2 separate regions of the Homo sapiens genome follow, and region 1 is linked to region 2. The links come from fine-mapping of genetic effects on gene expression. A gene starts in region 2. The other region holds a variant in brackets. All regions are shown on one strand. Distances are from middle to middle. Region 1 has its middle 430 kb from the start of HTR2A. Region 2 holds the start of HTR2A (5-hydroxytryptamine receptor 2A).

What was found. PIP is the estimated chance that this variant, and not a neighbour inherited with it, causes the effect. A credible set is the group of variants that fine-mapping cannot tell apart.
Region 1: its variant is the best candidate, but not a certain one, in a credible set for the expression of HTR2A in sigmoid colon (GTEx, PIP 0.56).

What each region holds. Positions count from the first base shown.
Region 1 is chr13:47,321,230-47,338,044 of GRCh38, reverse strand. No RefSeq gene overlaps it. Among named protein-coding and RNA genes, the nearest start is that of HTR2A, 430 kb to the right of the region's middle. The variant G/A (reference allele first, on the strand shown) is at 7,269.
Region 2 is chr13:46,889,527-46,906,341 of GRCh38, reverse strand. HTR2A (5-hydroxytryptamine receptor 2A) reads left to right here and starts at 9,289. Exons shown (of 4, transcript NM_000621.5): 1 at 9,289-9,668; 2 at 10,108-10,847; 3 at 13,752-13,952. The coding sequence starts at 10,436. RefSeq lists a silencer at 11,979-12,188.

The sequences.
Region 1 (16,815 bases), 430 kb before region 2:
GAGCTCGGCTGAGAACTTGTCTCAGGCTACAAGCCTCCCAGCTGAGAAAGCAAGCTGACTCACAGTTCCTTAGCTGTCCCACAGAGACTGCAGCAGCAATCCACCTCCTTCAAAGGGTCTGTGAATTCTCACGGCTTTCCTGGTATGTTCCTACTGTAGTTCTTGGAGCGAAAGTTCGTGATGTGGTTCTCCACATGCTGCTCTGTCTGTCTTAGTGGGAGTTGCAAGTTAGTCCTGCTTCCTCGCCACCTCCTATCCCAAATTATTTTTCAAGATGGTTCTACCATTTACATTCCAACCAGCAAAATATGAGAGTTCCAGTTCTACATCCTTGCCAAAATTTGATATGGTCATTTTAAAAAATGTTAGCCAGTCTTGCACATAGAAACTGATATTTCATGTTTTTAATTTGTATTTACCTTAGGATTAATAATATAAAGCTTATGATTATGTTCTTATTGACTACCTTTATCATCTTTTGAGAAAAGTCTATTCAAGTCTTTCAAATATTGTTTTATTATTTATTAAATCAAATATTATTTATTACTTTGGAGAAGTTGTCTATATATTCTGGATATGAGTTGTTTTGTCATATACAAGTACATCTTTTGCAGCTTAGTTGTTTGCATTTTCAGTTTTGTAACAATATTTTTAAATACAAAAAACTTTTAATTTGAGAAAGTCCATTATATCATTTGTTTCTCTTAAGCTTAATGCCTGTTGGGTCACTGGATATCTTTCCTATGCCAAGGTTGTCAAAATATTTACTATATTTTTTCTCCAAAATGTTTGATGCTTTTAGCATTTATATTTATGGTCTATAATCTATCTTGAGTTAATTTTCATATACATCATAGATATGAGGTAGACATCAAAGTTTATCTGTGTCTATGTGAATAGGCAGTTCTCCCAAGACCACTTATTGAAAAGATTACCCTTTCAATATTGAAATGCCATGGTACTGTTCCAAATAGCATTTTTGTGTCTATTTTAGGGCTGTCTACTCTGTTCCATCGATCACTATATAGTTATATTTATGCTAATACCATAGTTCCTGGATTTCTGCATCTTTTCAATGAGTCTTCAAATCAAATGTAATAAGTCTTCCAACTCTGTTGTTCTTTCTCAAAATTGTTTTGGCTATTCTAGCCATTTGCATTGCATATGAATTTTGAGATCAGTGTTTCAATTTTGATTGGAATGCTGTTGAATCTATAGACCAATTTGAGGAGAACTGATATCTTAGCACTATTGAGTCTCCCAGTCTCTTTGTATGGCATATCTCTAGATTTTATAAACATATTCTTTGTATTATATAGAATTTGTTTATCATTTAAAACTGAAGACTAAAGCTTGTGTATATTTATGGTGTATAACATGATGTTTTGATATATGTATACATTTTGGAAAGGTTAAATCAATCTATTTAACATATGCATCACTTCACAGTTATTTTGTTGTGAGAAAACTGAAAATCTCTTTCAGCAATTTTCAAGTATACAGTATATTATTATCATCTATAGCCACCGTAAGGTAGATCTTTTAAGCTTATTTCTACTGTCTAACTGAAACGTTGTGCCTTTTGTCAACTTATACCTAATTTCCCTACCCCCAGCCTCTGGTAACTACTATTCTACTCTTTGCTTCTGTGAATTCAGTTTTTTTTATTCCATATATAAGTCAGACCATGTGATATTTGTCAGTCTGTGCCTGGCTTATTTCGCTTATCTTAATGTCCTCTAGGTTAATTTATGTTGTTGTAATTGATTGCATTTTCTTCTTTTTAAAGGATGAATAGTATTCCATTCTGTATATAAAGTATATCATATTTTCTTTATTCATCTCTTGGACACTAGATTTATTCTTTAACTTGGCTATTGTGAATAATGCTGCAATGAACATGGGAGTACATGTATTTTGCCAGCATATAGATTTCATTTTCTTTGGATATATAAAAAGTAGTAGTATTGCTGAATTATAGTAGTTTCATTTTTAATTTTTTGAGAAAACCTCATGCAGTTTTATTTATTAGTATGACTATACTAACATACATTCTCACTTACAATGTACAAGGGTTCCTTTTTCTCCAAATCTTCACCAACCCTAATACTTTTGTCTGATAATAGCCATTTTAACTGGTGTAATGTAATAGCTCATTGTGGTTGTAATTTGCATTTCTACAATGATTTATGATGTTGAGCATTTTTTCATATACCTATTGGCCATTGGTATATCTTCTTTTGATGTCTATTCAAGTCCTTTGCTCATTTAAAAAAAATCAGTTGTTTTCTTACTATTGAATTGAAATCCTTATACAACATACTTTAGATATTAATCCCTTATCAGATGTGTGGTTTGCAGGTATTTTCTCTCCCTACGTTTTCTGATTAGTTGTATATGAGGAGTTTAGTGATGGGAAAGGAGGCCGGATAGAAAAGGGGGAAGAATTATTAATGGTTGGAAATGTGTAAAGTGAGAAGGAAGAGAAACGAGGTGGGTAAGGATCTTCTTAAAATCTTGGCATTTTTAGATGAGAACTAAGTATATAGAGGGAAAACGTACAAAGAAATAGGAAAAGGGGGCCGGGCACGGTGGCTCACGCCTGTAATCCCAGCACTTTGGGAGGCTGAGGCGGGTGGATCACGAGGTCAGGAGATCGAGACCATCCTGGCTAACATGGTGAAACCCCGTCTCTACTAAAAATACAAAAAATTAGCCGGGAGTCGTGGCGGGCACCTGTAGTCCCAGCTATTCGGGAGGCTGAGGCAGGAGAATGGGGTGAACACAGGAGGCGGAGCTTGCAGTGAGCCGAGATCGCGCCACTGCACTCCAGCCTGAGCGACAGAGTGAGACTACGTCTCAAAAAAAAAAAAAGAAAGAAATAGGAAAAGGGATGTTTGCTTCATTTTGGGCAGGAGCCACAGCCGAAGGCACCACTCAGTTTGTTGGGATACATTTTGGGGTCTTGACAACAAACTGATGTGACAACAAACAGAAATCTCTGAGCTTCTCACATTGTGGAAAAAGCAAACAAGACTCTGAAAACACTGTTAAGTTGGGACATTGGGGCAGCAGAAAAGAGTGAAAGAGACAGAGAGAATAGGAGGTAGAGAGATTTCACTCTTGAGGTGACAATGAAACATCCAGTTGTAGATAATTATGTAAAGTGGAACCAAAATGCAAGATTTCAAATTGGAAGAATAAGTTTGTGAATTATGTGGGAGCAGCTCATGTAAAAAACCATAGACATTGGAGTCAGGTAGACCCAGTTTAAAACCCTATCTCTGTCATTTTTTAAGTGCATGATACTAAGCATGTTTCTTAATTTTTAAAAATACTATAATCTATAAAATGGGTGCATTATGCATCATGGTGATGTTATAAAGGTTAACTACATCTATTATGGCACCTGACAATAATGGTTTAGTCTATTTCTCTTCTAGAAGATCAAAGTTTTGGTCAGACTGCATTGTGTTGCTTTAAAACTTCAGAAGCCATTTGGCATTTTGTCCCAGAACCACATGTTCCCTCATCTTCAAAATAAAATAGGAAGCAGAGTTAACACTGTTGAGTCACTGTATCAGTCAGGATTCTGGCAGAAAATAGAGATTTTAATGAAGGAATAGTTACAGAAGTATAAGCAGGGGTAAAGGACAAACAGCAGATGTTGAGTCACCAGTGATGAACAACTCCAGAAACCCATTACCAGTCCTGAGGCTGATGGAGTAGAGGGAAGAAATAGTGTTCCTGTAGCCCAGTGGGAGCCAGAGCCACGGGGGAGGGTTTGCCGGCAGATGCTGCTCGTAAAGAGACACATGTGCTAAAGCTGGGTAAGAGGCTAGGGGAGATACTCAAAACCTTTTCTCCTCCCAACTTCTGATCTTCTGGCAGTATTTTTCTTTCATTGAAATAATTTGGAAGCCAGAGAGAAAGGAGTTCAGATGCTACAGATGGTCAGAATCAGCCCCTGGTGAGAAAAGAATGCATCCAAGGAGGAAACAAATGTGCACATAACCAGTGCATTCACTATGGCAAAATGTACCAGGGATGAGAGACTAGCTACCGGTGAAGATCACTTATGCATCCCATAGCGACAGTCTCACTCTCACATTTGAGCGCTGCGAATACTGAGAAATTAGACTTGATGAGACTAACTTCATCCACCAACCCTAGGATGCCGTACCTCGGCGGCTGTGAATTTGCATTTCTCTGATGATTCGTGATGCTGAGCATTTTTTTCTTATACCTTTTGGCCATTTGTGTGTCTTCTTTTGAGAAAAATTTGCAAATGCAAAACATCTGCATCTCACCCAAGCTACTCGTCTGATGGAAACGTGGGCCTAAATCCCTTAAGCTTTCCTCACCTGGATTTCTCGCTAATTCTCGAAATGAATGATATAACTCCTGGTATCACTTTCAAAAGATTCCTCTTTACTCCTGTCTATATTCTCAGCAGACGTGAAATCCTTTCTACACATCTCGCAGGGTCAGAAGGCTGGAATGATTCCTGTCTCTTCTCTGAGCCAGAGTTTCCATCACTGGGTATTGAGACACATGTATTTGCTATTGTCACTTCCTGGCTACTTCCACTCATTCTTTAGGCCTAGCTTTGACATCACCTTCTCTAGATGGGTAACATGGCCCTTCAGTTTACTCTCCAGGTACCCTATACTTCCCTGCTTATCACTTATTACCCAGATTTGATATTGTCTAATTTCATGTTGGTATCCACTCCCCAGGTGCTAAGCATTTAAGGAGTAAGACGGTGACTCTCCAGGACTTTGCCCAGTGCATGACACTTAGCCAGGACTTGGTAAATATTTATGGAACTAGTGAATGCAGAAATATGTGAATGAATTAAAGTCATAATGTAACTGTGCTTGCTTGATGGAGGTGCATATGAACACATCTATGTGGCATCTTTATGACCTTGTACTTGGTACAAATCTTTTGAGCCTCGTTTTTAAACTTAAGGCTATTTGTGATCTTTTAAGAGTCTGTTAAGTACTAAAATGAGATATCCATGTTTTATGAAAAATAACAAATATGACCATACTTAATGATTTCTTTTGAGAAGAAAGAGTATCCCCACCCAAATCTCATGTTGAAATGTAATCCCCAGTGTTGGAGGTGGGGCCTGGTGGGAAATGATTGGATCAAGGGGGTAGATTTCCCCCATGGAACTATCCTCGCAATAGTGAGTGAGTGCTCGCAAGATTTAGTTTTTTAGTTTTTATTTTATTTTATTTATTTATTTATTTATTTATTTTATTTTTTTGAGGCGGAGTCTCGCTCTGTCGCCCAGGCTGGAGTGCAGTGGCGCGATCTCGGCTCACTGGGGTTTCACCGTGTTAGCCAGGATGGTCTCAATCTCCTGACCTGGTGATCTGCCCATCTTGGCCTCCCAAAGTGCTGGGATTACAAGCGTGAGCCACTGCGCCTGGCCGAGATTTAGTTTTTTAAAAGTGTATAGTACCTTCCCTCTCTCTCTCTTGCCCCTCCTCTGGCCTGCTTCCACTTTTGCCATTTGATAGGCCTGCCTCTCCTTCGCCTTCCCCCATGATTGTAAGTTTCCTGAGGCCTTCCCAGAAGCAGAAGTTGCCATGCTTCCTGTAAAGCCTGTAGAACATGAGCCAATGTAACCTTTTTTTGGTATATAAATTATCCAGTCTTAGCTATTTCTTTATAGCAATGTGAGAATGAACTAATACGGAATGGAATGTTTCTTTTTCAGAGAACAGGGAGGTGGCCTATAAGTGTCACAGTTAATGTGTCACATATTGCTTTTCCGTCCACCACTGAGGATTAGTTTCTGTGACGGTAAAGCACTTTTGGTCTCCATTTTACCTTTGAGTTTCCCAACACCTGTATTATTGAGTTTTGAAGAACACATATTATGATGCCTTATTAGGGATTTTAAAAAGTCTAATACTTCAGATCACTTTGATTTTTATAAACAATTATACTGTGTAGTACTAAAAGTAAGAAGAGAGCACAAGGAATATAGAGGGCCAAGGATCAGCATGGGCAGTCCACAGAAGTAGGGGTCTCTGTGGAGCCTAAAGTGAAGAGCAAGAGATGGTGTGGTTTGAAGTTAAGAGCAGGGACCTGGAGCAGTTAGACATGGGTTTGAAGGTCTAAGAGACCCAGGACTTTTCTGCGCTGTGTGATCTTGAGCAAACCTCTTAATTTCTCTTAACCTATAGCTCTTCACCTGTAAAATGGAAATTATAATTCTCAAAAATAGTGTGAGTAATAAATGAGGTGTGAAATGTAAAGGATCCAGTGCATAGTAAGTACTCAACAAATGGTAACCAGTGCTGTTATTATAGGCACAATATAGAATCACAGGTGATAAGAAATTATTATAAATTGTTTAGTTAATCCTGATGAATTAAATAACATGTCCCTAATATCAGTTTTATCATTGTTAGGGTTTATGGGCTGATTTCTTCTAGTAATAATAGTGCTTTACATACACTAACAATGAAGTCTGCAATAACATTTTTCAAAGCACCATTAAATGAATTACCTCATTTTGTTCTCATTCCAGTGTACAAAGCAAACAAAATGTTCCAAAAGCCCTCCTGTACTGAACCAATTGCCTGGATCAACTTTTTTGGGGGGAGTATATATTAGAACTAGATCTGGTTCCTTTCAAATGCTCAAAACAATTTTCTAATTTTCTGTTGACCTTAGAAAACAACTGCCAGTGACTTGATAAACTAATTAGTAAATTGCATAGCTTCCTTGGATGAATACCACTCAGATGTGGCAATCTGTATCTCTGAATATTTTCAAAGTATTCTATCTCTAGCATCAAGCTATTTCAACAGGCTTTAATTACTTTGCTGTCTTCCCAAAATCTTATTTTCTTTTGCTTAGGACAGATTTTGAAAAAAGGAGTTCCACATAAATTAATGAAACAGGCTAAGAAAAAAATGTTATTTGCCTATAATTAGTGAGAGTTTATTATGCAAGAGAAGTGTCACCAACAATGGCAGGAGCCAATAAAAGCATGTCAGCAGATAAATAGTCCTCTCTTCCCATGAAATCTGTTCAGACCATCCATCAATACACAGCACAGCGTTCCTATTCAGTCTAGCAGGTACCACATTATTTAATTTTGTTGCCCTGCTGTATGAAGACAAGTTTGGACCTTTTCTGATGGTAATAAATTTAATGTGGACAGAAACTGTGTTTCATAATGTGAATGAAAAAATAAATCACAAACAAAATAAATATTGAGGGACTGCTCTGTGCTAGGT[G/A]CTCCAAGACATTCAGGATGAATAAGGCAGAATCCTTTCTTCAGGGAACTTACTTTCTAACTGCAAAAAAAAATCACATACAAAATATAATACAAAGAATGAGTTAAAAAACATAAAAATGAGATGTAGTTAATATTTACAATGTGTCAGGCATTGTTTCAAGTAATCTACATGTCCTGTCTCGGGCAATCTTGTGACAATCCTTTGAGAAAAGCACTGTTTCTATCTTTATTTTACAAATGGGGAAACTGAGGCATAGAGCAGTTAAGTAACTTGCTCAAGGCTACTGGGCTATTAAGTGCTCAACTCACGTTTGAAATTCAGACAGACCCCACATCCATGTTTTTAAGCAATATTGAAAAGTAGAGCCAAAATAGTGAATGAGAATTTCTTGAATTCATTCCAGAGACTAGAGAAATTATTTTCAGATCTATCTCAGCATCCTTGCCTGTAAAATGTGAATAGCTATGATGCCTATTCATAAGAAAGTTATGAGATTAACGAAGATAATGCCTGCAAAGTACTTCACGTCGAGCTGAAGTTTAGACTCTAGCCACATGGGATCCCCCAACCACAGAGTGGATATCAACTTCCCAGCACCAGCTGAGCAGGCGTAACCCACTGGGAGCACTGCACCCACTATCCCTTGGCACTGAGTGTGCTAGAACCCCGCTGGACATACACGGATTTCAGGGGTAGTGAAGGGAGTCCACACTGTACCAGGCTGGTGTCCAGGAGAGCACTCAATATATTAGCTATCATTGATGTGCCAACTCCAATCCACTATTTGAGATGGTTTATAGACACCTGAGTTCAAAATGTGGCTCTAAAGACTACTGGAAGCTTTTTTCACTTCTGAGCTGGAAGGTTTCAAGGAGAAACTTTAAAAGTGTCATTGAGATTTTTATAACAAATGTAATTGCCCTAGACACATATTTTCGAATGAAAACAAAACAAAACAAATTTCATAAAGCTTTTTAACAAAGCAGGATATAAATAAAAGTGAATAGATGAATTTATTTCTCCTTGGGGAATAATAATTACCCCTAGGTATAGGATGGAATGGCAGGAGACATGTTAAAAACTTCAAACTTCTAAAATCACTCACGTCACTTTTCCTAAGTAGATCCTATTCTGTTCAGTAGGACACTATTAAATTGTTAACCTAGGGGAAATGTAATCAGTGCATCCTTAAATTATTATATCAGAGATTCACAAACTTTAACACAAGGATTTAAAATAATCTTAAATTTTAGGAAGGAAATCAAGTTGAAGCTGTGAATGTATGACAGGAGTAATTATTTGAAGAACTCAAGAAAAAATTAAAATTCTCTGACATAAAAATCTAGAAGGCACCAGATGTTTAAGAAAATTAAAAAAATAAAGAAATAATGTCGTTCTAAATATTCTGCCAGCTGGTGTCCTACAATTACCCAAAAGTGTAGCCTTTCCTCAAAAGGACTAGAAATGTGATAGTCCATTCACACCATGATCCCTATATCTGTAATTTGCATTTAGTGGTATTTTTAGTTTCTTAGTATCAAACTAAAAGTGCAGAATCAGCTCTCAAATCTGACAGTCTCCTTCACACAGCAACATAGTCACACACACACACATTTCTTTCAAAAGAGACAATTTATTAAGATTAAATTATATATATCAAAATGTTATTACATTTATCTTATTGTATCATCTAAAAGAATTGATACACTGGGTAATTTCAGAATTAATATTTTTGGTGATACTGTTAATGAATGAAATAGGCTGAATAATGACATCCCCCCAAAAAATATATGTATATATGTCCACGTTCTAATCCCTGGAACCTGTGAAATATATTACATCTCAAAAGGAACAGTGCAGATGTGATTAAAATAAGTATCTTGAGATGGCATGATTACCCTGGATTACTCAGGTGGGTTCCTTATTATAGGAAGGCAGAAGGGTCAGAAAGGGAAGCAGGAGAGAAAGCAATGTGATAAAGCCAGCAGACATCAGAGACAGAGAATTGCAAGGTGCTGTGATGCTCCCTCCTTTGAAGAAGGAAAAGGCCCTGAACAAGCAATGTAGGTGGTCTCCAGAAGCTGAAACAGGAAAGAAAATAGATTGTCCTCTAGTGCCTCTTGAAGGAACCAGCCCTGCTGACACCTTGGCATTAGCCCAGTGAAATGGATTTTGGACTTCTGATCTCTAAAACTGTAAGGTATAAATTTGTGACATTTCAGTCCTCTGTTTCACAGTAACTTGTTACAGCAGCTACAGGAAACTACTACAATTACTATTACTGTGTTTTGGGTTTTTGTTTTTTTGTTTTTTGTTTTTTTCCCAGAGCAGAGCAGAGGACAAGCAGCAAGCTGACTGAACGTACACTTCTCCTTTGTTGGATCCTACTGAACTGTCAAATACAATCTAAAAGTATGAGATGAAGTCCAGTTTATCATTTTATTTCTTTTATGGCTTATGTTTGTGGTGTCATATCAGGAACATGTTGCTTAACTCAAAGTCATAAAGATTTTCTTCTAAAAAATTTTGTAAATTTATCCACCATATTTAGGTCTATGATCCCCTTTGGGGTACTCTTTTTGTGCATGGTGTGAGGTAAGGATCTACTTTAATCTTTTCATTTGTGAATACCTAATTATCCTAGCAGTATTTGCAGAAGAGATGATTTATTCCCTCAATGAATCCCTTTGGCACTTTTGCAAAAAACCAGTTGACCACAGAGATAAGGGCTTATTTCTGAACTTCTATTCTTCTCTGTCGATTTATATGTCTACTCTTGTGCCAGCACTGTACTGTTTTAAATACTGTAGTTTAGAGTAAGTTTTGAAATTGGGAAGTGAAAGTCCTCTAACTTTATTGTTCTTTTAAAAAATTGTTTTATCTATTCTGGATCCTTTGCATCCTATATAAAATGTGGGATTTACTTCTTCATTTCTGTTGGCATTTTGATAGGCTTTGTGTTGAATCAGTTTAGGGAGAATTTCTCCTCTTTCTTAAACCTGGCTTGCCCAAGCTTTAGATAGCTATACATGTACTTAGTCATCTGATTAATATGTGGCCCCTCTTGGGTCTTATTATTGGTAGGACAGAGATGTGAAATCTTTTCCTGGAAGAAAGTCCTATCTTTCAATTACTGATTCAGCCTGCTTCAATCACGTACCTATTTGGCCGGAATAGCTACCCATTTTGCCTTCTGCATTTCCAGCTGGTACCTTTCCCATGTCCACTCAGCATTGTTCAATCTGCAATGGCCCCATTCCCACTCAGCCATTCTCTGGTTTGGCCTCAGGCCTCATTCACTTTCAGATTCCCCACTCTGCTTTCCTCTCCCAATAGAACGGTGTGGTTCCAAGTCCTGTGACCCAGAATCTCTTTATTATAATGTCAGCATTTGTCTCTCCCTGGTCCTATTCAAAGGACAAATGGGGCAATTGTGAAACAGTGGATCATATTTCAGAAGATGTTATGAAGGCTTTGGTTCCTAACCATATCACATACTAACTATGTAATCATGTGCTGGTTATTAACTCCCTGCATCAGCCCCTCATCCCTAAAATGGGGATATTGATAATTTTCCCATCAACCTTAACTTCCCATCAACCTTTGCTTGAAGATCAAAGTAGGTAACATATAAGAAAGTTCCTTAAAAGCAGAAACATACATTAGTATAAAATGCTATATTCATTATGCATTTGAAACTTAACATATATATTTTTCTCCTCAATTAGATTATATGATATCAGTATATTTTGTGGTATTTAATATTATAAAGTGCTTAGGATACCTGTAAATAGCTTAGTTGAAATAATAAAAATCAATGAGGCAGTTAGAAATAGTATTTGGACCTGGGACAGGATTATATAACTTGTGTGAGCACAGGCGTGCATGTGTGTGTGTGTGTGTGTGTGTGTGTGTGTGGCAGAGAGAGAAATAAAGAGACAGAGATAGACAGAGACACAGAGAGAGAAACAGAGAGAGATTACTTTTGACTAACATTGTAAGGACTCTGATGTCTGTGGTCCTATGGAGCAAATGTCAGTAGAGTCTTGAGAATGACCATACAAAACTGAAGCTTGTTTGTGAAGAGAACCACATATTGAAACTCACGTCAGTGGTACATAGTTAGACATGGTTATGTACCATCAACCCCACAAAAGAAGTACAGTTTTCATAGAAATAGAAAAGAGTAGATCTTTGCCTTCACTTCATAGTTCTTTAGAAACACAGAGGGTATAGAAAGAAACATGAAAGCTATAGCAAGACAACAGTTCTAACCAAAATCTCAGAACCCATCTCTACTTCGGTTTAACTCATTACCATAATTAAATCTTAATTTTTAAGATTTCATCAAAGATGACACCCAACGGTAGGTGCATGCCACCATATGCAGTTAATTCTTCTGAAATTTCTCAGGCCTTTCCTTGTTCTGTCTCATCCTTTCCTCATATCCTGACACATGTGTTCTCCAGAGTTCTGGATGTCAGGGCTCATTTCCCACTTCTGCCTCCAAGACATTGTTCAGTAAGTGCTGCCTGACTCATCCTTCTGTGCTTTGACACCCCACATGCAGCTTGGTCTGCATTAAATGCTTATTGAATTCATTCCTGGACAATCCTCTCTTCCTTATCTACACTAAACGTTTACTGTGTTGAGTTGACTCCTGGACAGTCCTCTCTTCCTAATCTCTTTTCTTCCAACAGAACTAAGTTTTCATTCATTCATTCACTATATGCATGCTTACTCCATGCAAACATGGTGTAGGGGATTAAAACTAAATTAATTAAATATATGACAATGTATTAATTAAAATCTATATAGCACAATTTACCAACTGACATTCTGGCATTGTAAACTGTAAGCCACTGTTGTTCATCACCTTTGCTGGAATAAAGCAATCTCTTGTAAAGAAGAGTTGTGATCTTAAATTTCAAAGAGCTCACTTGGTCTTGGCACTATGGTTGGGAGAAAGATAGAGTACATGTTCCTTCTACTCAGCCTAACTCACATTCCAATAGTACTTACTACGTAAGGTTGTTATGGGGAATGAATACATACATGCATGTAAAGTGCTTTAAACAGTTCCTACTGAGTGGTAAATGGTATATAAGGGTTTGTTGTTATTATTATTCTTATTTAAATAGGAAATTAGTTTGTATGTTGCAGTATATGTTCTTGTGCCTTCCTCATGTGATCAGTTACCTATTTAGAGGGCAGGTTCTTAGAGAACAGATGCTTTGTTTTTTGAATGGAGTGTGTGTGTGTACTCATGTCGTATCATACAGGAGTGTTAAGAAAAAAAAGGTAAAAGCCTACTCCTCCTTAATGAACCTTCTGTCTTGCCTCTTCATTGAAATAATACCAACTATCTTATAGTGTAGATGCAATGAAATCTGTAGGTACAAATTTAAATTCTTTCCACCAAACCAAGCCTGAAACATGGAAACTAAGGCTTCCAACAAGCAGAGTAACCAAGCACATTGTAAGTACACATTTCCTTTGATCTTTGCAGGTATCTCACTTCTGATAGTCTTCTAAGAAGCTTTTCCAAATCAAAGAAAAATGGGCTTAAAGAAGATGGCCCTGTTTGCCCAGAATGCTCAGGGATGACATATTGAAAAACATTGGCTTGAGAATTGGAGGAAGATAATTCTTATACCATGACTACTAGGCTTTTAGAATAAAAACATAACTAGAACTGTCTCAAACGGATTATACTGAGTAGAATCAATACTCCCACCTTCACCCTCCCTGAAAATAAAAAGGCTACGAAAAGGGTTTTCGTTCTCTAGATTCAGACGTCCCTACTGCCCTATTCATGAAGATTTCTCTCTGAAAAGCACAGAGGTGCTGAAAGAAAAGCCAACTTTTATTCCCACCTTGTCCATTACACTAAAGGGCAAAAATCAGGTTTTTTTTTTTTTTTCTCCAGGTTGTAGCAATGAAAGAGCAAGAGGTGAGAAGGTTCAATTCTCTCCCTCCCTTTACAAATTAGATCTTCCTTCATGGCATAACCTTGACATTGCTCTCAATCCTGAATTTCTTCTTTTTGAGCATGGAAATCATATAATTGACATTAACTAAAAGAAAACATGGTTTTAGCATATAAGTAACTCATATGGGAGACAATGTCCTTTGAAAATTCTTTTAGTCTTTTAATTTCATTTAAAGAACTCTAGTATGTTGCTTTCAAACACAATATCTAGACCTGTTTCTCAGTTACTTGCTTAACCACAATTATTTTAAAAATAAAAAAGATAAAACAATGATTTGTATGGCTGAAGGGAAAACCTTCCATTATTCAATACTAAGAAATCCTATTTTATTTCAAGTATTTAAAAAATTAAAATGGTTACAAAGAACATTGAGATGTGGTCAAGAAACTAAACAGGAGCAATTTATAATTGAAGAATGAAACACTTTGAATATTAAATAATGAAGGGAGATGAAATCAGATGCAAAAAATGCAAAATACTTAAAACCTTTCAATATGACAGTATGTCTTCCCCAGAGAAAAGTATGAATATTAAAGCTTGGCTGAATTTCTTTCTTTCAGTTTTTGATATAAAATACAAAATTCTTTCAATTGACAGAAATAATATCTGTATTTAGAGTCTGTCATGAAGAATATGTTAAATAGCCTAGGTTTTAAGGATAGACTTTATCTGTAGACTCCTGGATTCATTCTCAGGCTTCAATATCCGTTCCATTTCCTGCAATGTCTCACCTTCTGCTTTCTACTTGTCTCTCTTCCATTGCTCAAACTTGGAATCACTGTGCAATTACACTTATCATCTTTATGTTTGACTTCTAATATAAGTGTTGCTTAATGTTAAGGCTGGTACATTATGGACCTTTTGGAGGGTAATAACAGGTAGAGGGGTTATATTTTTGTCCCAATCAAAGAACCACAATGTAGTATCAGCAAATTTCTCTCCTTCTCCTTGGTTATTAGTTTTTTTCAAAGCGATGAAGATGGCTATAGTTATTGCTCTCTGTTGATTTCTCTTGGCCCACAGATGTATAGCATGGAAGCAGGAACTGTCTAAGGAAGGAAGATGTGCATGGAGAAGGATGTGTGGCACCAGCTTTCCTGGCCACTGAGTGCCTTGTGCTGATGGGCAGTTTAACCCAGGAGATAGAGAGGGCAAATATAAGCCCTGGAGGGTTATGCCCTCATGGAAATTACCATATAGCTGGGGATCCTAAAATTGAAACCACTAACTCCAATATGAAAGAGAATGGAAAGCAGTACCACATGAGAAGATTAAAGGGTGGACAAACATGGGAAAGAGAGCTTAAATATGACTGGATGACTTGGAAAGGCTTTACAAAGATGCCATTTAGCTTTAAGTTGGAATATGGATACAATTTTGATATGTAGAGAAGGAAAGGTAGAACATTCTGCCTGAGAAAAACAACAGCAAAGAAAACAGGAAATGTACGGTGGGTTCTAGAAGAGCAGTCAGGCTACTTGGCTGGAGGACATGGAGGAAGGAGACTGGAGCATATCAAGGACAAGGTGGTGTGGGTTTTGAGTGCCATTCAGAGCACTGGGGGCTGTGTTCTGCTGGGAAGGAAAGCTGTTGAACCTTTACTCCTTCTCCTAATCCTTCTCTTTATCTTCCTCTTACTGCTACTCCTGCTACTGATAGTTTCATGATAACAGCTAAATGACATGGTGTACTTTCTATCTACCATGCACTGTTTTAAACATTGTACATTTATTCACTCAATCCTTGAAATTAGGTACTATTAATATCATCTTAAATTCACCAGATGAAACAACTAAGGCACATAAAGACTAAGTAGTTTGCCAACCATTACAGCTAACACTTGACAGTCAGGACAGCAAGCAATCTGATTCCAAGGTTAGACTTTTATTCCCACCGTGTGCTGTCTCCGATGAAATTTTTAAAAATTATGTGGTTAAGACCAAGCAAGCAGAGAGGAGTGGGATGGCCCACTGTCACTGCTGGCAGCAGGTGCTGGCTCTGAGAGCCTCCCATCATAATTCTTCCTTATCCAGGAGGCAACAAAGAGACACCCCAAGTTCCCATTATCCAGAGTACTGCCAGCATGAAGACTTTTCCCTCTCCTCTCTCACAGAAGGAGGTACTCTGGGCATATGGAAGACATATCATTAGGGAGACCCATTGCTGGGGGCCCCAGGAAGAAGTTATATGAAGAAGCATGGAATAAAGTCATCTATAGCCATATGAATCCCACTTCTTGGGCTTCCTTTGAAGTTGAGAGTACTCCTCAGTCACACATGAGAAGACTGAAGATCAAAGAAGTTAAGTGACTTGATGCAGTTATATAAATCAATAGTGGCAAAGCCAGGACAATAGCCAGGATTTTTTGCTCTTAGACCAGAGCTTTCTTTACTTGCCCTAGTTGCTTCACTCATTATAGTCCATGAGGCATACACCCAGGGAGACAGACAAGATGTCACTAAAAAGCCAAGATGTGCCCTCACAGTAACAGTGGGAAAGAGCTAGTTAGGAAATACATTTCAGAAAACATGGAAATGTATGTGGCCTAAAGCAGAAGAATGGAGCCAGATACTCTATTCACCATACAACTTCAGCTCCAGGGATTTACAACAAGTGTGACAGCTAAGATAACTTTTTAAATAAAAACTGTCAGTGATTATAAACCCTGGAGATGTTATAAACAGATTATCAACTTTAATTATTTGAAATCATTTCCTAGAATTTGATCTTTTAATCTTGCACAAAAATGGAAGATACAGGTGTACAATTTGTTTTTTGTGCTTCTTTTACTATTTGTGAATCATCATAACACTGATGTAACTTGCCTTTGCAAGTGAGCTAATGGATGGTTAATATTTCTGTGAGCTCATTTTAAATCAATATTTTATGGGTGTCTGCCATGTGCAAGTATGTAGTTAGGTGCTGCGTAGTGTGTGCTAGATGATAGGGATGCTGCGTATACTAAAACAACAATGCAAGATTGACCCTGAAAGATACACATGAAATAAACAATTACAGGGATTGGTATCTTACACTCTACAGAGCCTCAAACCTAGTTCTCTCCTGGTGAATGGTTCCACCACTTTGAGGAGGAAATAAAATTCTGATAGATAATATTGTGAGAAGCACACGTTTAGGAAAAGAAGTGGCATGAGAATAGGTGAAGAAGATGTAGAAGGTGGCTTGAGCATTTAGTTCACTAGTTTTGGAGAATAAATGGGGAGAGATATGAATAGAAAAGTAGAATTAATATAACAAAAGACTTACTAACACTCCAGCCTACAGAGAAGGCGCTGTGTGTGGCAGGAATGTGGAAGAACTGAATGTTTCTGAGCAGGGCTGATGCTCTGTTGTTGCACTGAATAATGATTATGATAGATTGACTCTTTAGCCCATAAACTCTGAGAGTCTAACTCCGTGATCAAGTGGCTTTGTAAGAACGTTAACCAAGTTGGTCCACGAAGGATGAAAGAATCAGAAAGAGAGAAAACCATCAGGAGGCTATTACATTAGCTAAGTTGTGAAATAATAATAATAATAATAATAATAAT
Region 2 (16,815 bases):
CCCTTGAACATTTATATATTTGTGAAATTTTTCATAAATATCTTTATGAGAAAAATAAGAATTTTGTTTTACAACGAGACAAGTTTTAATAGAGTAACCGACTGGTAGTTCATAAGATATAAAGGTGTTAAAGTTGCCAATTTAAAAAACTCCATGTTAGATGTGAGGAAAACACTAATATATTGTTGGTGGGAATATAAATTAGCATATTATTTTAGACAGCTATTTGGTGGGATCTTTGAAATTTAGCACTTGCAATCCTAATAATTTATTTAACCTGTTCAAAGAAAGACCAGTTAAATAAATTATGTTATATTCATGAGAATTCTATTACCAATCTACACATTTTTAAGTCATATGTATTATATATATATAAAATACATATAATCATATATGTAAACACTTGTATATGCAAAGAAAATAAAGGATATAAAATATGAGGAGTATGAAAGATTCTTTCAACATGGTTTGACTTTTTTACACTATGCATTTTTATAGTTAAAAATGAAATAAAGAAAGATCAAATTTACAATATAGTATCAATGTTAAATGTTTTTTAGATCTCAGAATCAAACATTAGGATTGGAAGGGACCTACAAGGACATCAAAGCCAACTCATTCTATGAATATTTCTCCTCCAGAGATTCTAGAAATTTAGTGTCCAGTCTTCTTCAACCTTCTTGTTCTGACAATTCACAACCTCCTGGTGCCTAAGTATTTGTGGTTCTGGCAGGAAGATCCCAGAACCAAGTCACCCTATCATAGTCTTGTACTCTAGGGCCAATGGCCACCACGTGAGTATGAATGAAGAATTGTACTGGCCACCTAACCACTGCAGAATGCCAAGGAGCTAAGGTGATTCCATGACAAATCAACTTTCTTGAAAAGGGCAGAAAAGGCTGCAACAGAGACACTATGTGGCAGCAAGAAGCAATGGCAATGGAGGACTGATCAGTTACCCCTCCACATAAGGTTTGGTGTGGGACTGACCTCTTTGGTCAGAGACTCCAGAGTCCTTCATCAATCTGGGGGGAAGCGGGGATAGTAATGGGCTTCAAAAGGGAGATACTAGACATCGTGTTTTAAGGGCAGATAGGAAACCAAATGATTAATTTTTACAAATATTTATCTTTTTTACTCCAAAATTATGGAGCATGTCTTACCAGACATATTGAAATACAATGTACAACCTTATCCTGGACAACACCGTCAAGCATAATTTGAGATGGAAAATAGAACAGGAAGAGTAATTTCAACTAAATTGAGATAATGTTCTGATCCATTTCAGTGGTTTCTAGGACCCCATCTGAGATATTGGTAAAAGGCTCTGAGGGGATTAAGTGCCTAAGTCATCAATATCAGGTGGACAGAGGAACAATAATTTGGTTCTTAAAAGTATCCTCATGAAGGTGAGAACTTGAATTTTCTGATATACTGGGAAACTCCCAAAGAAGGCAGTATTTCATATTCATACTGATTGACCTGTGGCTGCTGAAGCCATTGGAATGCAGAGAAACCAAGAATCTGGTCTGCCCATTCTACCCTGAAGTCAAAATTCAAGACTTCCATTCTCCCAAACTGCCACTCATCACAAAGGAGGGAGAGCATCAACGTGAGTCAAGACCAGGGACACCATTAGGCCATATTGTTAACAGATCACTGAAAGCAGCAAAGAGGTTAAAAATCTATCCTCTGAGTAGAGAACTCTCATTATTTTCATTTTAGGTGTGTCTCTTTCCTCCCATAGGCCGCTTTTCTCATAGAGCTGGTTTGATAAAATTGGTCCAAAAGGCTCCTCTTTCCAGTGGGAAGTACCTGAACCATCAGTCTCTCCCCATCCCCCACAGCATGAAGTGGGAACTGGCATGGGCTCAGAGGACAGATCTAACAGGCTGCTAGCCAGGCCCTGACCAGGAAAACAGAACCCTTACAACCCAAATGGTCCCGTCTGGTTCACTACATGCCCTCGTTAAGAATAAGAGGTAAATGTACCTCGAATGTCCCTTCAGCCACAGACACCTGACAGTTGGTGCCAGAACAAAATTTGGGATCCTGGCCAAATATCTTATGATTCAACCAATAAGCACCTGCAAAAATGTGTGAGGGTAATTCTTTGGGACTAGCAAAAATATTTTTCCTCCAATAGTTCTACATTTTTCTTATAAGAAAGGTAATCATCTTGCTCTGTAATGAGAATCTAAGTGATAATATATTCATTTCTCCCAAAACCTAGGTTATGCCTGGTAGTAAATTAGATATTTTGGGAAACACACTTTTAGATCACTGACTGGCTGAAGTGCTATTTACCTCCAGAGTAAAAATGTAAAAAATGATCTCCCTGTGACCTCAAAAAAATTGTGATGCCTCGTGAAACAACCAAGTATGACTCAGACACCAGAGCCAATGTAGCTGAGTAAAAACACAACAAAAAATAGATAAGGATGTACCCTCTGCTAATAGAGAGTCATTATTTTACAGGCCTGGACAAAAGGCCTGTATTTTTATTTGGGAAAGGGTCCATTTCCTGCAGTGTCAGTGAAGCTGGTAAGTCATGTTGCTCTGATCCCCTGCCCAGAGGGATGGCAGGGTGACCCAGACTGGCTAATTTGAGTACTCTATTCCCCTAGCTATCATGTTCATTTCAGAGATGGGCACGTGGGTCTAACCAGGGTCTCGTCTGCAAGTGAAAAATACTCTACTGCAGAGTTAAATCCTGTTTCACAGCCTGCAATTATGTAAAATCAGAACTGCCAACCACCACCTTTTCCAGTTACATGAAAGAAGTCACCTATAGAGGAAGAGAATCAGGTCAGTGAAAGGGAAGCAGATTCTAGAGGTAGCAACATAGCCCTAATAAGGTCCTTTTAGCCACTAGATCCTGCCATGCCTTAAGTTAGTCCCACCTTGGACTTGTCAATTACTTGCACATCTCCCTTGATCCTTTTTGACTTGGATGTCTGCCATTTGTCTATAATAATTCTGAATAATACAACTGCCACACCTAACAAAAACAAGCAGTTTAAAAATTTTACCTTAAAGCCAGTCTGTCTCAGCCATGGTTAAAGGATAAGGTCATCTCTGACCCTCTTTTACCTGAACTTAATTTAAATATTTTTGAAATAATTATTTTATGTTTATAAACACATGTATACTTCAGAATATTTACAAAATTTGAAATCAGCATTGAAATAAAAAAAAAATCACAACTCCTTGACCCAGGAAATATCACTGTCAACATTTGAATGTACTTCCTTCTAGTTTAGAACCACATATCCATGGTTTTTTTAAGTTGAGAACATGGACTATAGAGCTCGTTCTTATTTAACATTAGCTTGTGCACGATTTCCCACATAATGAAATGCTCTTCAAGTATATGAATCTTAGCAGCTTCACTGTATTTCATTCGGTCGCTCTCCTCCTCGAAATATTTTCTTATCTTGGCTCCTAGAACACCACATTCTTCACTTTTCCTCCTTCCTCACCAACCCCACGGTCTCCTCTGCCACGTCTTTCTTATCCCCCTTACCTCTAACTGTTGAAGAAGCTCCAGATTCAGTCTTTAAACTGCTTCTTCCTCTACTCGGATATTTAGGGAATCACATTCTACCTCACAGCTTTCAACACCACGTATATACTGACAGTTTCCAAATTTATATCTGCATCCTGGACCTCTGTACTCTATTTCAGACTCTTATGCTCAGTGTCTTATAGACATAGTTATTTGTCTTACACAGACCTCAAGTTAGCATATCCAAGACTGATCTGATAATCACCCCAAGTAAGCTCCCACTGAAGCCTTGACTATTTCTGTTAAGGACGATGCCCCATTCTTCTAGTTGCTCAGATCTAAAACCTTCAGAGTGACGCAGCTCTCTTCTTTCTCTCACGTCCCATATCCTATCATTATCTGTCATCAAGTTCTGTTGGCTCTACCTTTAAAACATACGCAGAATCTGACCATTTCTCACAAACCCACTAGCACTACCCTAGTGAAAGCCACACCATCTCTCACCTGAAACTGATGTTCTTGCTTCCCTCCCCCTCCCCTCTTGAACCCATTCCATTGGGCTGTTATTCCAACTACTCCACTGGAACAGTTCTTATCAAGGCCACCAAAGACTACCATTTTGACAAATTTTACGGTGATTTCTCAGTCCTTATTATACTCAGCTGGTCAGAAGGCATTTCACCCAGTTGCATACTCATTCTTCTTGGCCATCTTTCTTTTCTTTTACTTTAGGATTACACTTTCTCTTTGTGTCTCTCCTAACTCACTGGGTGCCCCTTTTCATTCTACTTGGCAGGTTCCTCCACACTCTCTGACCTAAACTATTGCAGTAATCCATGGCTGAGTTCTCAGACCTCTTCCCTTCTTTATCTCCACTCACTCTCTTAGATGATTTCACCTAGTAGCATACCTTAAATACCAATATGCCATTGGCTATTTGATGTCTCTTCCCTAAACTCTGTACTCATCCATGCTACTGCCAACTATTTCTTGAATGAATGAAGGCAGGAACTATGCTCATCTTCATGGTTATACTCAGCACCTATAATAGTGCTTGACACAGCAGTCAATTATCAACTGTTAAATTAATGAATATTGTTCAACTCGGTGCCACTGTGAGAAAATTAAAAAGATAGATGACAGTCATTAGCTAATTTCAAGTAGTTTTTTTTTTTAGATACAAGCCAGTGCCATAATAGAAGGCAGTTCATGATATTGTTTTCTAAATATACATTGGTCCGATGGTCTGGCTTGTTCCAAACCTAAGTATCAGAGCACCAAAAGGAAGTGATAGATAAAATGTCAGTCAGTAAACCCTCTGTTAATATTTTTTTCCTCATTCTCAGGCCATTAGTAATGTTTGAGCAGCAGAAATCTTAGAGACATATTCTTAAATATCATAGAGTAAAAGAATTCTATGCTGCCAATTCATAACAAAATCAGGCATAATCAATTGAGTGAAGGTTAAGGTTGGCACTGTCTTGCAAAATTAAGCAGCTTAAAAAGGACAAACGTAACAAAGAAAAGGGACCTATTCTATGTTCCTTTGAACAAGAAAAAAAATAAATGTTGAAACCCCAAATGTCCAGGCCATTTCAGTTTCTCAGACTACAATCCATTAAATAATCATTTAATCACAGTGACATGGATGAACACACAGATACACTGTTGAGTGAAAGAAGCGTGACATAGAAGACTGCAGAAGATGCTACAGTCTTTGCCTCCACTAGGAAGGAGGGCCACATGTGTCCATTTAAGTTAAAGTCAAAAAAGGATAGGAGAGTACTTTCAAAAATGATGAAAATGGTGGATATCTTAATTTGGGTGATGGTTACATGGGTGTACATATTTGTCAAACTCAGTGAATTGTATACTTAAGAGCATTATGTTTTAATAAATTTAAAATATAACTCAATTTAGACAAAATTAAAGTGTCTTTCAATGAGTGTTCTGGATGAAGAGGAATGAAATAAATATAAACAAATTTCCTTACTGCAGGATCTCTTACAGCTTTTAATATGCAATTATGCACTGTATATTTCTAAGAGGAGACTATAAGATACAGTAATGTTCCAGACTTAATTGGTCAAGGAACCTTTTTTTCTCATATACATTGACATATGTAAGACACTACAGTTTCAGAAACCCAATAACTTTAGCCTGGAAAAAAATTCAAACAAAGGCTACAAATACCACTGAAGTCATTGAGAAAATATTAACATCTAATTTTAAGCAATCACTTTCTAGTGAATCTTCCAAAATGAACTAGTTATAAAATGTATTCCTATATATGGTCCAATTAAGAACTAGAGAAATTCTGCCCAAGATAATAAATATAGTTCTGGTATTGTTAACCTTAAATTCCTTCTGGCAGTAATTAGATAGCAAAGCCAGATGTATATTGAAGAATTCTAAGCTTATGGCAAGGAAGCATCATTCATCATCACATAGACAACACTTATCTGTTTTGTGTAAGACATCCAACTCACCCAGAGATGTTATTCAAGGCATTAATACACAGCTAAAGATGATAGGTCATAGGTTGAGCTCCCCAGGAAGCTGACTCTGTGACTGATGTGTGTGCAAGAGATTTGTGTGGGGCGAGCTCTCAGATCAACACCGGCAGGGGAGCAAGAGAAGCCAGACTGGACAAGGGGAGATATTTAACTTGGATTTGACACAACAAAGGCCTCAGTGAATCCCATAGAAGCACTGGAACCAAAGTTCTTCAGCCATCAGGCAAGAGGGCCAGCCCTTTATATCCTCACAATGGACCAGTCTTTGCATGCTGGCTGCCACAGAGAAGGGGCATGACCACTGGCAAGCTGGCTTCCTTGGCTGAGGGGAGTGTTCACAGAAAGAGTGGAGAGCCAGCCACCAATCCTTCCAGCAGCAGGGAGCCCGAGTCTCAGCCCTGAAGCAGAAGCTGGGCGAGGCATCACGGTGCGCACTACAGCAGCCAACACACACTCGTCTCACCAAACTCACAGGGGCATCTGCCCAGCAAGAAACTATTCCTACCTAATCTAACCCTCATGCTATTAACCTAGAAGCTCTGTTTAAGAATCAGGAGCCTAGATTATGCCCCTACTGCTTTGTCCATAACAAGTATTCATAAAATTGCAATAAAAACTAGAAATAATCTTAGATGGTAGCCAAAAAAATATTTCCCAGTGTAAACCACATAATAAGAAACACTGATTAGTTTTGGCATGACTAGAAGCCTAGCTGTTCTTCATGAGAAATAATGGACTGAGATCATCAGAATTCTCTAAGAGCTATAACAAGAACATCTATAAAATTTAACCTCAGAAAACTTTTGAATAACTTCCTGACACTGGAGTATTTTTTATATTACATTTCCCTCTGCTATCTTTAATAAAATTAAATTGGTATCCCAATAAACAAAGTAACAAGAAAAAATGAGAGGTTCTAAGTTTCTCCCTGGTTCTCCTTTTTAATAATCAATTCATCTTAATTTATGCTAATAACAATTCAGTCAGAACACATCTGTTGAGGACCTTCCATTATGAGATACCATGCTTAGATACCACATGTGAGGTTTATGAATTGCATCTGGGTGGATAATATAATAGTATAAGATAGATGTAATATAGATTACATCTATATTAAGGGTATGGAAATGAAGTTCAACATCTAATAGAGAAGACAGACATTTACACAGATGTCATGCATTCATTCAACAAACATACTTAAGCACTATGCGCCCAGCTGTTAACAAGATAGACACAGTTCCTGCCTTTATGAGGCTTACATGAGACATGATGTGTTAAAAATAGAAGGCTGCAGAAGGTGCTATAGTCTTTGCCTCCACTGGGAAGGAGGGCTACAGAAAGCTTAGGAACAGTAAACTTAGTAAGAATAATAGCAACTAACCTTTATTGAGTGCTTAAAATGTGCCAGGCAAATATGTAAATTTATTTGGCTTTCACGTCAATCCTGAGGTCTTTTTATTATTAATGTTCCCTACTTGCGGATGAGGAGACTAAAACACAGAGATTAGGTAGCTTAATCACGCTTACAGATGTGGTGAGTGGTAGGCCTGGGATCCAGAGCTGCTCTGGAACTAAGCACGAATTTGCCAGATGGACACACACAAAAAAGGAATGGTAAGAGCACTCCGGGCACAGGGAAGTACAAGTACAGAGACATAAAAATGGTCAGAAACATGTAAGTTCAGTCTGCATACAGGCTGACTGGGAGAGTAACCAGAGTCCAGGCCTGCAAAGTGGGGCAAGCAGGGTACAGGTAGATGAAGAAAAGTGTTATGTGCCCCACAAGGAAGGGACTGCAGGAGTGTAGGCATGGGAGTGATGCCAATTGTGTCATTAATATCAGTAAGAATATCAATAGGAATGAAAGTGGCTGACATTACTTGAGAACCTCCTATAAGCCAGACATGGGCCAAATACTTACACACATTATCTCAGTTTAGCTTCACTACAATCTTATGAGGAAGGTATTATCCCATTTTACAAGTGAGAAGACTGAGCTTTAAAGGGAGCAACTAGATGAGGCGAGGTTCTACTGTTTATGAGTGATAGAGCTAGGATCCAAAACCAAGGAACTCTAAGGTCTGTGTTCTCCGCTGCCTGCTCGCCAGCGTGCATATTTAACGTGGAGGGGTAGGAGGGTGGCAGGCATGGCAGTGAGGGGGGCACTAAGGCACCCACCCAGGAAATAGGTGGCTAGATCTCGACCACAGGGTGCCAGCTGCAGGCTGCAGGAGAGGACATGTGAGAAACACGCATACAGAGGTAGCACCGGAGACGAAGTGGGATCTGGCAGCGAGAATGAAGGAAGAGTCGCGGATAACAGCAGCTGTCTGAAGAGGTGGTGATTCCATCATGCAAGCCAATGGGTAGGAACAAGCACTGAGAGCCGGGCAGGGGGATGCGGAGTGAGGGAAGATGCTGAGGTCAAGGTCTCCCAGGCTACCATGGAAGGAGCCAATGGGCAGCTAGAGATTTAGGTCTGGAACTGAGAGAAATAATCAGCTATGAAGGTACAGACTTGGCCACAAACATATTGAAGGCATGAGAGTGGTTGAATTTGTCCAGGGAGAATGTGAAGAACAGAAGGTGATAGAACTGTAGCAAAACCCAACTATTGAGGAAAATATTTTCATGCCTGCAAAAAGAGAGAGATCGAACTGCCTCCTTTAGAAACCTACTTGGGAAAGGGCTTTCTTTACAAGTAAGGCAAGTTGTCATTACTGGTGGGGGAAAAAAATTGGTACTGCGAAACCAACTTATTTCCTACCACATGTGAGGTTTTGAATAATATCTGGGTGGCATATTTCTGCTGAAGAAAATAAGCCAGTTCAATGGTGTATCTATTAAATAAAAATAGTGCTAATAGTTTATCAGAGTTATCACCACAGACGTGCCTAGCCACCCTGAGCCTATGTGGCCAATGTCAGTAATTCCACTCTGGACACAAACACTGTTGGCTTTGGATGGAAGTGCCGGACACTCACAGCACTCCGAGGACATACTGTTTTCTAGCCTTATTTATGTTCTCTCTTCACCCTTCAGCCTAAAAAATTACCACAGTGCCACTTACCTACCTTAATGGGAATCTGCACAAAAGGCCATTTCTCCAGTTTCTCTCAAAAGCAAAGGAAAACTTCCCAATATTAATATGTAGCAAAAAGAGGGAGAAGAAAAAGCCTGTTTGGTCCGCCCTCCTGGCTGTTGCTACCTTGCAGCTTATGACATACACATAGAGGGAGGTCTGATGAAATGAACGAGACAGTCAGAGAGCTACTCCATTCCCGTGGAAACCAGGAGTCCCTTGGTGCAGACAGCTCTTCCTACTTTCCCATGCAGTTCTTTTGTGCGACTTTGAGGGGCTCGTGAATGATTTCTAAATGTGTGCCTGCTGAGGCGAGCCGCACAGGGAGGGAGGAACCCAGCCGAGCCGTGCCAGAGGAAGCCAACAGGATCCTAGCAGTGCGGGAGCTGGCTCAGCTCTTGCATGCAGTTTTTGAAGTCAGCAAAACAGAAACCAAATTACTATCATATTATGCTGGTGGAAGATCAAGAAGAGGGGACTCTACACCAGTTTAATTACTGTGAGAGATGCAGCGAGTCACAGAATAACAAATGTATCTCATGTGTGGACCCTGAAGACAAATGTAAGTTCTCATGCCGCTATATTTTATTGCTGTGTAATTTTCTTTCCGGTTTGAAATCATGCTTGGCCAACATGTAATCATTTCAATGAGAATTTCCAGGGAGGAAAGTTGTCTGCTAATCTTTACTTAAGACTTTTTTGTTTTCCTTTTATTAGCTAAGCAACATTATAGGAGCTGAAATTCCTGACAGCAGCTGTGGCAATTCAGCTTAAGAATGGCTGAGAACTGTAACCCAAAGTACATCCAATTACTATGGGATTAACACTGGATGTATTTTTAATTGACTTTCTTAATGTAGAATGTGTACATCCCCACTGTTTCTGATTGCATGCTATTTTAATAATACTGTTGCTAAACTAGTACCATCGGCATAACCAACAAAATGAGATATAGTTAAACAAGAGTCCCAGTAGTTATAAAACTTTTCTTCTTTGTCCAGGACATTTATCTTCCCGAGCGCTCAAAAAAAACCCTGCAACCTCTATGCTAAAAGTTCATTCTGCTTTTTTGTCCTCGGTTTGGTGAGAAAATAATAAAACCAAACAGTGGACTCTCCTAAAATTGTGAATGAAGAAAACTTACAGCCACCACAGTTCAGTTCTTTAACTATCATTGTAATAATGGAAGACAAAAATCCAGCCCCGGGAGAACAGCATGTACACCAGCCTCAGTGTTACAGAGTGTGGGTACATCAAGGTGAATGGTGAGCAGAAACTATAACCTGTTAGTCCTTCTACACCTCATCTGCTACAAGTTCTGGCTTAGACATGGATATTCTTTGTGAAGAAAATACTTCTTTGAGCTCAACTACGAACTCCCTAATGCAATTAAATGATGACACCAGGCTCTACAGTAATGACTTTAACTCCGGAGAAGCTAACACTTCTGATGCATTTAACTGGACAGTCGACTCTGAAAATCGAACCAACCTTTCCTGTGAAGGGTGCCTCTCACCGTCGTGTCTCTCCTTACTTCATCTCCAGGAAAAAAACTGGTCTGCTTTACTGACAGCCGTAGTGATTATTCTAACTATTGCTGGAAACATACTCGTCATCATGGCAGTGTCCCTAGAGAAAAAGCTGCAGAATGCCACCAACTATTTCCTGATGTCACTTGCCATAGCTGATATGCTGCTGGGTTTCCTTGTCATGCCCGTGTCCATGTTAACCATCCTGTATGGTGAGTGGCATTAGTTTCCCAGCTATATTCGCACTGGTAATAAAGAGCATGTGCATGCCACCAGCAGATGAGATGGGGCTCAGGGGGCAAACAAACTATAAATAGAAGTCTTTGTTTATAGACTAGAGCCTACTATGTTACTTATATTTTACTCTTAAAATGGGATTTCACATAAAAATCAGACAGTCTATGACCTGTGATCACTGGAGAGTTTTGTGCTTCAAAACGCGTACATCCTGTGTAAAAATGATCATTGGAGAGTTTTGTGCTTCAAAACATGTACATTTAATGTAGAAATTTTTATAAATTACCCCATACAGTCATAAACCAATAACTTACCCATCATTCTGAATCTACTTGATTTTTGCTTCTTTATATTCCCAACCAATATTCCAGCCTTCAGGACAGAACAGTTTTAATCTTTGTCACACAGTTTTCAGCACTTTTAATGGAGTGATAAAGCCTTCCCAATTACTTTGGAACATTTGCAGAGAGAACATTAGTGGTGCAATAGGTTTTATGTTAAAATATGCAGAACCTCAATTAGAATAAATGAATTACTCCAGTTTTAATTGTTCCCTGCCCAGAGAAGCTAATTTGGAAATGTGCCTTTGAATTATATCCTCAACTCTTTGAAAATGCATATGCATAAACTCCTCCAGTCTGGTTTGGAGGAGGGTGGGAAACAAATGGGAAGGGATTAATCTTGCTTTCTTCTCAACAGAGTTTGAAACAGTCAGACCTCTCAGCAAGGGACCAGAATGTGATATTCTTTCCAAATTATGAGTAATACAGCCAGATACCTCCTTAAAGGAGAGACTATTGTGACTGCTGACACAGGCACAAGCAGCAGTCACTCAGAGCTTAGAGACAGGTTATGATAGCTATCTTTAAAGGGAAATTTTCTGGTCAAGTCTTAGGGGCTAAGATTAAAAAACATCAACCCAGCCCTAGAGAATGTGAAGGAGGAAGGCGGTACGCAAGGGCGAGCAGGCGCCAGTTTGCACAAAGCTAGTAACACTCATTCCAAGTCCAGCCTTCACTTGACCATTTAAATGCCACACCGGAATGATTTCATTTAATTTGCCTGCCCTTTCCCCGGCATCCCGGGGAAGATTCTCGCTTCCCAAACCCCCTCCCCTAGGGGGCAAACTCCAGTGGGGGTAGGAGGAGTGACAGAGCGGGACCCAAAACAGAGGCTGGAGGGTGGGGTGACCCCCGGCGTCACCCGCTTGGGGAGCAAGGGCGCCCCCTGGCGGCCGCCGCTCTGAGAGCAGCCCGTTCCCTCCGGAGCCCCGCCCCTCCCTAGGCTGCTCCTCCAGCCTCCCCCAGCCCACGGGGCGTGGGGCATGGGGCTTCTCCCACAAGGAAATGCCCCCTCCTTATCCCGCATCAGAAACACGGACTGAGGCCTGGGCCGCCTCCTGGCAGAGAAACCCCTCCGAGGGCCGACATCTGTTCCGAACAGACAGAGCGTGGCTTCCCCCATAAGGCGCTGCAAAGGAAAAGGCTTTCCTTTCGGCTCAAGCTCTTTGCAAATAATACATGTGAATGGCTGTAAATTAGGCTTGTACCTACGCCCTTTACTTGTCTAAATATCCCTTGTGGCATTTTGGTAGAGAGTGTACGTTTGCGTTGGAGTTTGTTCGGCTTTGTGGGTCTGTAATAAGAAAAGTGGACTTTAAAATTTTCCTTCTTACATGCAGGCAGATCTAACTCCGCTGCTTATACTGTGATCAAAACTAATTAAGGTTTACATAACTGCTTAATCCCCCTCCAAAACACAAAACCAGGACACTTTGTTTATGTCCATAAAGCACACTCTAACCTTCCTCATATAGCAGGTGACCTGCAGTATCTCTTACATTGGAATTGTCTGGGGAGCTTGGAAAAAGCTTTGCAAACGCTTTGACATTTGATGTCCACCTCAGCCCACCCTCCAAACATGATTTAATTGGGCTGGGTTTGGCATGGGCATCAGGACCTTCTCTAAAGCTCTCCAGCTGATACTGATGTGCAGCCAGGGGTGAGAGCCACTACCCTAAAGCAGCTATTCACAAAGCGTGGTCCCTGGACCAGCAGCATCAGCATCACCCGGGAGCTTGCTAATTCAGATGCAAATTCTACAGCCTGCTCCCTACTAACTGCATCAGAACCTCTGGACGGAGGTCCAGCAGTGTGTGTTTTAAGAGGTGTGGCAGAGTCTGATGCTCACTAAAGTTTGAGAAATGCCTCCCTAAAACAAAGCTCAGAGCAAGGACACCTTTCTTTATTTTTCTTCACCCTTGTCTTCAGCTCTCCCTACACATACCCCAAATTTGAGTTTGGCACCCAAAGCATTATTAGATCATTATTTTTCATTTTTACAAACAGACATATTCACAATCTGAATTTTTAGTCATTTAGTCATTTGCACTAATGCAATTTATTGCCATCACTGTATGGGACTGGATGGTTATAATAATGACTAAGAGGTGAGACTAACCTTAGGGAAATACAATCCAGAGAAATATGTGACTAAATCCTGACAGTACAGTGTGAGAGGTGCTCCAGAAGAGGAGCCAAAACACAAATTTTGACATAAGCCATTAACAAAAGAAATGTTTTGCCAGGCGTAAGGGGGAAGAAAGAGAACCCCCAAATAGAGACCATCCAAGCTTACCGTGCCACACTCACATAACTCCAGACACTAGAAATTTTCAAACCCTGCATTCATCAGCCAGTGCTAGCTTATCATAGTTAAGTACAGTTGCCAGTGGGCTTTTTTCAAATACTAAAAATATATTGTGTTGCCCTTTGCCACCACCTGTGCCTGTCCCAGAGCTGGAAATTGTCATAGGATAGGGATACATGTGCTCCAGGAGGCACAGGGTTGCTCACTGACACCAACCTTCTGCCTCATAGGGTACCGGTGGCCTCTGCCGAGCAAGCTTTGTGCAGTCTGGATTTACCTGGACGTGCTCTTCTCCACGGCCTCCATCATGCACCTCTGCGCCATCTCGCTGGACCGCTACGTCGCCATCCAGAATCCCATCCACCACAGCCGCTTCAACTCCAGAACTAAGGCATTTCTGAAAATCATTGCTGTTTGGACCATATCAGTAGGTAAGTGGCAACATATTTCAGAGTCTCATTTGAAATGACAGTTCGTGCTTTCTGAAAAGACTTGTTCCATTTTGTTGTACTGAAACCTGACATCCTCAATCTACTGTTTTGGGTGGTGCAAGATATGTTACAACATCATAATTATCAGATTCGCTTCAGGAAAGAAAAATCTGTTTATGTCACTGGCTGACAACATGAATTTGTATTGCTTTGCACAGGCAAAACTATAAACAGTAGAGCCAAAAAGTCAGAAATAACTGTGCTGTTTTCCCTATTTCTTACTTTCAAGTCCACGACTCTAATTCTTGGGTTTCCCAAAGACCTCAACTTTTATAATCACTGAACTTATGATCAACGTAAGGATGCAGACCACTTTGCTAGAGAACATAAAGCCTCTGGGCTCTAGAGAAAGGTACCATGTGCTGTAGCTTGGAGGGAAAAGGTGGGCCAGAGGAAAGTGCCAGGATTTGCTTTGGGGCAAGGCTGCTTTTCAGTCCGACCCAGTGTCCCTATTGACCTTCCTCCTTTTATGATACCACACACCAAAGGATTTCAACTTGCTTCTGTTAGGTTGATTACATATATTCATCTCTCGCCAGTATTGATCTTCTGTCACACACCTAATAGTCAGAAAAGCCCAGGTAATGGAAGCTAAGGGGGCGGGTCTCAGGCAGTGAAGTGAATTGTACCTGTCAACCTCAGCAGCTTGGTTGGTAACCAAAGATTCTCTGACATTCATTTTAAAATCCAAAAGCTTAGCAGGCAGGAGTGTTGCACCTGTTTATGGCCACGCCAGTGCCAGCATCCGCTAATATGAGAGACTATGAGATTCCACCGCTTGAAATCAAGGGCTTGAGTGAGCTTATCCACAGCATTGGAATAATAGTACCAATAATAAGAGCCAACACAATAATACTATATCTTGTGTATTTTAGTTCCCATTGTTTTCTTTGCTGCTAGCAATGGGAACTATTATGCAATTTGAAGAGTAAGTAGCTCCATCTTATAGATGAGGAAAAACTGGGATTCAAAAAGCAAAATGAGCTGTGCAAAGCCCCACAGCCAGTAAGTAGCACAACAAGGATTTTATTGAATTCTGATGGGAACATCTGATGGAAACACTAACAAATCACACTTGTGTCACTTTCAAATGTTTAAAAAGTCTTACCTACTTCCTATTTTAAATTTCCCATTACCGTTTGAGATAGAAGATTCTATGGTGCTTATTTGATAAATGAGGAAACCAGAATACAGAGGTATTGTGGCTTACTGGATCATGTCTCCAACTTGCAGCAGGACTAGGACTCTAAACTTCCAGCACCATGCCCTGTTCTTTCTGTACCTTCCTTAGGAAACAGTTTTTGCTCCTAGAAAATGCTTGTAGTTTCTGGGACTGTGCAAGTTGGACTCATTCTACTAAGAGCAAGAAAGTGAAGGGCCAGTAACCACTCAATCCCAATTACACATAAAATGCCCCTGGGAACATTCTGATTTAATTGCCTAGGGTGAGGCCAGGTGATTCTAAGGGGCAGTCAGAGTTGAAGACCACTGAGACAGGTTTTCAGGGTGGTCAGCGTGATAAGTAGGAGAATCAAGATTAATGCAGAGGGAGCAAATGAAGCTATTTATTTTTACCCTGATACACTGTCCATAGTTTTACCCCAATATACTGTGCCATTGGTGAGACAAATGCTGGGAAGGTCAACCATCTTTTCCTCAGCCACACTGACTCCCCCATCTCATTCAGGCTTCATGATAACACCAGTAGTAAGGTAACAGTTTCTGAGCACTGAGTACGGACCCAGTAGTATACAAAGCCCCTTAAAGAAAATCAGCTTCAGAGAACTCAGTTGCACAGGATGATATCACTTATAATCAGGAGTCAATATGGGTCAATCTGAGTCCAAAGCCCATGCTCTTTCCACTGCACAAAAGATAGCCAGAAAGAGCCAGAGGCAGACTATCACCACAGGAGGCAGGCAGGCTGGAATGATTGTGGTGGTGCCAGGCAGGGATCATTCATCCATCCACTTGGCCAGTCTTTTTGAGATGAAGTTTCGCTCTTGTTGCCCAGGCTGGAGTGCAATGGTGCTATCTTGGCTCACCGCAACCTCCGCCTCCCGCATTCAAGCTATTCTCCTGCCTCAGCCTCCTGAGTAGCTGGGATTACAGGCATGTGCCACCACGCCCGGCTAATTTTGCATTTTTAGTAGAGACAAGGTTTCTCCATGTTGGTCAGGCTAGTCTCGAACTCCCGACCTCAGGTGATCCCCCTACCTTGGCCTCCCAAAGTGCTGGGATTACAGTCATGAGCCACTGCCCCCACATTTGACCAGTCTTGTAATGTGCATCTACTATGTGTTTGGCACTGTATAGACCAAGATGAAAAAGATATGCATTCAAAGATCTCTCACAGTAAGGTAGGAGAAGACAAGGAAACAAAAGAATAAAAAAAAGTTACATAGAATCTATACTAGAAGTCTGAGGTGTGTGCCCTGAGGAGGGGGCAAGCGGAAAATGTAAAAAGGAAAAAGGCAGATCTAATGAAGGACCTACAGAGACTCAGCACAAATATTCTCTTGAGTTTTCTTCTAGTGTTTCTGTTTTGATTATTTTGCTTTGGGTTTAGTTTTTTGTTTGCTTTGTGTGTGGTTTCTTTTAATTTAGATCCTTAGTCTAGCTGGAATTTTAAAATATGATCTAACTTGTTTGCTTCTACTAGTAACTAAAGCTTTTTTTAGACTCAATTGATATTTTCTCTTCAAGCTATTGATATGTTCACTCTCTTGGTAAATTTCTAAATGTAATACTGTCTTACATTCCTGGAATATTGAGTTTGTATGACAAAGTTGGTTGGTTTATG